2 linked regions of the Homo sapiens genome follow. The protein of the gene in region 1 interacts with the protein of each later gene in a pairwise test. Each region holds a gene or a part of one and is shown on either strand. Other genes may lie near its edges.

Region 1 (2,612 bases):
TTCCTATTCTTCTTCATTAGGAAACTAGGTTATGCCTGGCAGTCGGTCCTTCACTCTGATTCCCAGAAGAGCTCTAAAAGATTTTCTGGCAAGCTCCTCCAGTTGAGCAGGCCTTAGGGACAAAGAGAAGAGACAGATGTCACCACGGCCTAAGGCATCTTGGCTAAAGTTAGTTTACAAAGATTAACTGAACACCTACTGTGTTCGTAGCTCTGTGCGAGAAGAAAGGCAGCCGGACAAATGAAAAAGACTGGCACACCCAGAGGGGCACGGGCATGCGGAAAGCATCCTTGTGCCTCATTCCATCCTTTCTGGAAAGAAATCCAGCCCATCCCCTTCCAGTTAGAGCCTGCAGTTCTTTCTCTTCCCTCGAGCCTCAAAGAACACAAGGTGTGACTGTTTCTTTCTAGAATACCCCTGATGAGCAGTTCATTCTCGATCGCCACCCAAAGTATGACAACATTGTCATTGGTGCTGGATTCTCTGGTGAGTCTGAGCTGGGGGGAATGGGGTGCCTTAAAGCTGACCTACCTCAGTGCCAGGTGAAATGGTATTTTCCACACTCTTAGCTGCCCAGATAGGTGTGAAGCCTGGACATTGTAGGTATAAGGAGGCTGGGCAGTCAGAAAAGGGGTATTCATGGTGGGAGGCCACTTCTGGCTTTGGGATGTGACCAGGAGGACAGTCAGCCCTGTCTGGGTAAGTAGGGGATGTCCAGAGAGCTCAACCTCTGTCTGTGAAGCTGCCTGAGAGTCTGCTCTTCCCTTCCTAGGGCACGGGTTCAAGCTGGCCCCTGTGGTGGGGAAGATCCTGTATGAATTAAGCATGAAATTAACACCATCTTATGACTTGGCACCTTTTCGAATCAGCCGTTTCCCAAGCCTGGGCAAAGCCCACCTTTGACCTCTGGCCAGAAGCCTCCCTTCTGTGCACAGGAGCCAGTTTCACAGATGGAGAAGATGTCTCAGATGAAGGGAGTGTCCCTGAGATATCATCCTTTTCTTCTGCCTCGCCTGAATCCCCCATAAACACCAGATGATTGAGTCTACCTTCTTTCCTTGGCCCGCTCCCTTTTTCTTCTGCCTCACTTGAATCCCCCGTAAACACCAGACGATTGAGTCTACCTTCTTTTCTTGGCCACCTCCCCATTCACAACTACTTTCTCGCTCCCAGAAGGTTGATCAGATATTCTACAATCACAGAGTAGCAAGGACGTTTGAGATGGGTATATCAGTAAGAAGAGGGCACAAGAACTGGCTCTGGAGACCAAAGCAGTTGTTAAAAATTCTCTTTGCTGGGGGCCGGGTGTGGTGGCTCACACCTGTAATCTCGGCACTTTGGGGGGCTGAGACAGGCGGATCACCTGAGGCCAGGAATTCAAGACCAGCCTGGCCAACATGGTGAAACCCTATCTCCACTAAAAATACAAAATTAGCTGGGTGTGGTGGCGCATGCCTGTAATCCCAGCTACTTGGGAGACTGAGGCAAGAGAATCACTTGAACCCGGGAGGTGGAGGTGGCAGTGAGCCGAGATTGCGCCATTGCACTCCAGCCTGGGCAAAAAGAGTGAGACTCTGTCTCAAAAAAAAAACAAAACAAAAAAAACCTCTTTGCTGGTATATTTGAAGAGCTTGGGATGGATTTGACTAAATCTGCCCCGAGGAGGGTGAACAAGGTGATCTCAGAGATCACTACTGCTCTTGGAGTTCCTTCTCCTAAAGCTAAGGCCAGCCTCCATCACAAATGCCCATAAAATCTGGCTCGTCTTTGATGAACAATAAATATTTGTTGAACAAATAAATAACTGCCCTGCATTAAGTCTGTAGCGGGCTTTCTTTTCTGTGTGACCTCATTTCTTCCAGGCTCTAATTGTCTAAATTAGCACCACAGAATCCATTAACCCAGGAACCCTTGGAGTCTTTATCCCCTCAATGCGCTGCACCCCCTTTCTCTGGATTCTTTGTCTCCTCCTCACCCCCTCTCTGGTTGTGTGAAGATGCTCAGCTCCCCAGTCTCTCATTAAGGTGTATTGTCAGGTCCTTATGAAGATGGAGCTGTTATACCAGAAAGAAAGAGAGAGACACACTCGCTTAGAAACCCTGTTCAATGTTTGAATGTTAAATGTGCCATTTTATTATCATTAGGATTGCTCCCACTTAATGAAACAGCATTAGCACCGAGTTGGCTGGCCTCCTTGCACTAATTGCTTTGGAAGGGAACAGGCTTATAACCACCCCAGGGTGGGTGGAGGGGTGAGGGGTGGTAACAGGGACTCGAGCAAGTCTGGATGCACTCAGATGAAACCCACCTGGAGGATCTCCACATCGGGCCAGTTCAACCCCAGAACAGGAGCTAAAATGCTCTAGAGAGAAAAACTGGGACTGGGAGTGGCAGATGTGTTAGGGGGAGTCACAGAGTGGGGAGGAGCAGGCAGTGAGAATGACAGTACAAATATCCCCAAAGGAAATACAACACAGAGGAAATGGCTCTTCAACTGCCTGAGTCCTTAAGGTCCTAGGCACATGTATTAGCACTGATTCTCCAGTGAGTTATAAAAGCCAGCCAAGGCCGGGCGCCATGGCTCATGCCTGTCATCCCAACACTTTGGGAGG
Region 2 (3,824 bases), on another chromosome or scaffold:
GATCCTTAGCGGATCACACAGTGTGCCTTCCGCTTTGCCTCGTTGTAGTATATTTATCCAGATTAAATCTGTAAAACAAAGTTGATTTGAAAAGTTACAGTATCAAGACAGGTAGAGGAAAGAGGAAAAAAAAAGTATTGTGTTACTTGATAGGGAAGACTAAGATTTTGAGCTGACTTTATATAGAGGAGACTCAGGGCATTTTGTAAAAACTGTCTTCAGCTACTGGGGGTGTCACCTCCCCTTAGACCCATGCTTGTCATCACCCAGCCTATGACTGTAACAGAAGAGAGCCCTCCTGCATCTCGCCCATACCCCGAAAAGTCCAGGACTGACTACTCCTCCCCACACTCAGTAATTGCTCTCTTCTGGGACAGCTGTGTCCTTCATGGTTTATGTGTTATTTTAATAACTTTAAAGAGTGGCTACTTTGTACCAAACACGGTGCCAAACACTAGGGATGAAGTGGAGTTGAGACAGACAAGGTCCCTCAAAGAGCTTATGTTCTACTGGAAGAGACATTGAGTAGGCATTCTTTATCGTGCTTTGAAGGAAATAATTATAGCTCTGCAATAGCGAAAATAATGGGGGTGGGAGGAATGGCAGCTTTGCAAAGGGTGGTCAGAGGAAGCCTCTCTGCAACTGAAAGATGAGAGAGAGATGTAAGAACAGCCAGTTTTTTTAAAAAAAGCCAGATGAGGAACCCTGGGGCAGAGGGAAGAGAAGGCAGGGAGCTTAGCAACCTGTTGGGTGGAGGTTGGGAGTGGACAGTAGGGGCGAGTGATGATTCCAGGAGGTCAGAGGAGGCAACTCATACAGTCTTTTCTTTTCTTAATTGGAAAGCATCAAGTGACATATAGAGTCATTTAATTTTTTTTTTTGAGACAGGGTCTCGCTCTGTTGCCCAGGCTGGAGTGTAGTGGCACAGTCATAGCTCACTGCAGGCTCAACCTTCTGGGCTCAAGCGATTCTCCCACCTCAGCCTCTTGAGTAGCTGGGACTACATGTCCATTCCACCACACCTGGCTAATTTTTCTATTTTTAGTAGAGACGGGGTTTCTTCATCATGTTGGCCAGGCTGATCTCGAACCTCTGGCCTCAAGTGATCTGCCTGCCTTGGCCTCCCAAAGTGCTGGGATTACAGGCATGAGCCACCGTGCCTGGCCTTTTTTTATTTTTTTTGGAAATGGAGTCTTCCTCTGTCGCCCAAGGTGGAGTACAGTGGCACGATCTTGGCTCATTGCAACTTCCACCTCCCTGGTTCAAGCAATTCTCCTGCCTCAGCCTCTTGAGTAGCTGGAGTTACAGGCGTGCACCACCACACCCGGCTATTTTTTGTGTATTTTTAGTAGAGATGGGGTTTCACCATGTTGGTCAGGCTGGTCTCAAACTCCCGACCTCAAGTGATCGCCCGCTTCGGCCTCCCAAAGTACTGGGATTACAGGCATGAGCCACTGCCCCCCGCAATACCTGGCCTTTTTAAACTACTTCTAACATACATACAGCAGCATACAGAGTCCTATAGGCCATGGTGAATAGGTGAAATGGCTCAATGAAGTTCTGGCTTATGCAGTAGGGTACATGCGATGCCTTTGACAGAGATGGAAAGGATGGAGTCAGATGGGCTTTAGGAGAAATTAGAGTTCTGTTTCGGGACTGCTATATGAAGAGATGCGAATAGAGCTGTCAGGTAGGCAGTGGAAAAGGAGTCTGGACTTCAGGGGAGAACCGGTACTGGAAGGATGAATCTCTTGCTTGTTCCTGTTACTAAGTGAAATATTCTTTTTGTTCTTAATTCTAAAATAGACCAAATGTGAATTAAATGGTGAGAAATATTTCTTCTTGTCTCATTATTAGTGAAGATAGATCCATTCTTTCATATTGGTCTCCCTGGGAATTGTGGCAATCTCTTCCTCATACTTTTTGTTTCCTCTTTTAAACCAAAGGTCAGCACCTCATCTATGGGCACTTTACCAAAGCGGGTGAAAATTGTGGAAGTTGGTCCCCGAGATGGACTACAAAATGAAAAGGTAAAGTTGGAAATGAGCCAAAAAAACAGTTTTTTCAAGCATCTGCTTTGAGTATTACGTGTGATAGGTGCAATGGCAGTTGACAGAGCTATGCAAGATGTGATTCCTCTGCACAAGTTAGGGGAGAGTAGAGGAGGCCAAACAGGGACAGACACCTGTGACAGTTAAATGATCTAAAATGGTGGGGCAAGCTGGATGGGTGGCTCATGCCTGTCATCCCTAATTACTTGGGAGGCTGAGGTGGGAGGATGGCTTGAGCCCAGGAGTTTGAGACCAGTCTGGGCAATATAGCAAGACTCTATCTTATTAAAAAATATATGTATATATATAAACTGAATGGTGGTGCAACAGGTTTGGTGTCCCCAGGTCCACAGCCCAGTGGGGTGGGGTAGACCCAGCAATTCCATGTAAGGGGATTTATCCAAAGCAAGTCACGAAGGCCAAATGTAGAGATTTAGCCTTGGGGGTGTTCCTTACAAACCTGTTTGGTAAGCACAGAACAGTTGGAAACAACTTAAATATTTAGTATGAGGAAAGTTGGGTCAGATACACTATGGACTTTTTATAAAATGAAATATTATGAAGCCATTAATAACATAGGTATATATAAAGTGACTCAAGCAGTTTATAAAATAGTACATGTGACTGGGCATGGTGGTGGCTCATGCCTGTAATCCCAGCACTTCAGGAGGCTGAGGCAGAGCACGATTCTGTCTCCAAACAAAAACAAATAGTGCATGTGCGCGTACGCACGCGCGCGTGTGTGTGTGTGTGTTTTTGGGAGATGGCATCTCACTCTGTCACCCAGGCTGGAGTGCAATGGCGCAATCTCGGCTCACCTCAACCTCCTCCTCCCGGGTTCAAGTGATTCTCCTGCCTCAGCCTCCCGAATAGCTAGGATTACAGGCCCCTGCCACCATGCCCAGCTAATTTTTGTATTTTTAGTAGAGATGGGGTTTCACCAGGTTGGCCGGGCTGGTCTTGAACTCCCGACCTCAGGTGATCCACCTGCCTCAGCCTCCCAAAGTGCTGGGATTACAGGCATGAGCCAATGCGCCTGGCCATGTATTTTTTAATCTTAACACTTTTATGTAAGAAAAAAGTTTATATATGTATGGGAGCATTTATCTAGACTAGGACCTAGACCAGCACTTTCTGTGAAGATGGAAATATTCTGGACCTGAGCTTTTCCATGTGGTGGCCACTATACCCATGTGGCCCTTGAGAACTTGAGATGTGACTAGTGTGGCCAAGGAATTGTATTTTTATTTTTATACAATTTTTATTAAATTTAAATAACCACATGTGACTAGTGACATATTGGGCTGCACAGATCTAGAAAGTTACACACCAGGGTGTTAATAGCGTTATCACTGGGAGATTCTAAGGGTGGTTTTCTTTTGTTTTTGGCATGTTTTTCTGAAAGAATCATATATTGATTATTTTTTCAATAAGAAAAGCTTTTTTCTTTTTCTCTTTTTTTTTTTTTTTTTTTTTTTTTTTAGCACGTCCATCCTAGCTTTAATAGTGAGTGCTTGTTGGAAACAATAGTGTGTAAGTTCCCGAAGGGCAGAATCCTGTCTGTTCTGCTTCTGCTTACTGCTATATCCCCGGCACCTAGCACAATGCCTGCAACATGGAGGGCTTTCAAAAATTATTTGACAGGCTGGGCATGATGGCTCATGCCTGTAATACTGGCACTTTGGGAGGCTGAGGCAGGCAGATCACCTGAGGTCAGGAGTTTGAGACCAGCCTGGCCAACATGGTGAAACCCCATCTCTACTAAAATAAATG

The links.
Region 2: the proteins of PIPOX (region 1) and HMGCL come close enough for resonance energy transfer, tested with the Homo sapiens proteins (one large-scale study listed by BioGRID).

The regions. Positions count from the first base shown.
Region 1 is NC_000017.11:29,055,403-29,058,014, forward strand, and holds the end of PIPOX (peroxisomal sarcosine oxidase), read left to right. Parts: intron 1-410; coding exon 411-486; intron 487-772; coding exon 773-903; 3' UTR 904-1,814; downstream 1,815-2,612. UniProt on the Homo sapiens protein: Metabolizes sarcosine and L-pipecolic acid.
Region 2 is NC_000001.11:23,818,716-23,822,539, reverse strand, and holds part of HMGCL (hydroxymethylglutaryl-CoA lyase, mitochondrial isoform 1 precursor), read left to right. Parts: intron 1-1,946; coding exon 1,947-2,030; intron 2,031-3,824. UniProt on the Homo sapiens protein: Mitochondrial 3-hydroxy-3-methylglutaryl-CoA lyase that catalyzes a cation-dependent cleavage of (S)-3-hydroxy-3-methylglutaryl-CoA into acetyl-CoA and acetoacetate, a key step in ketogenesis. Terminal step in leucine catabolism.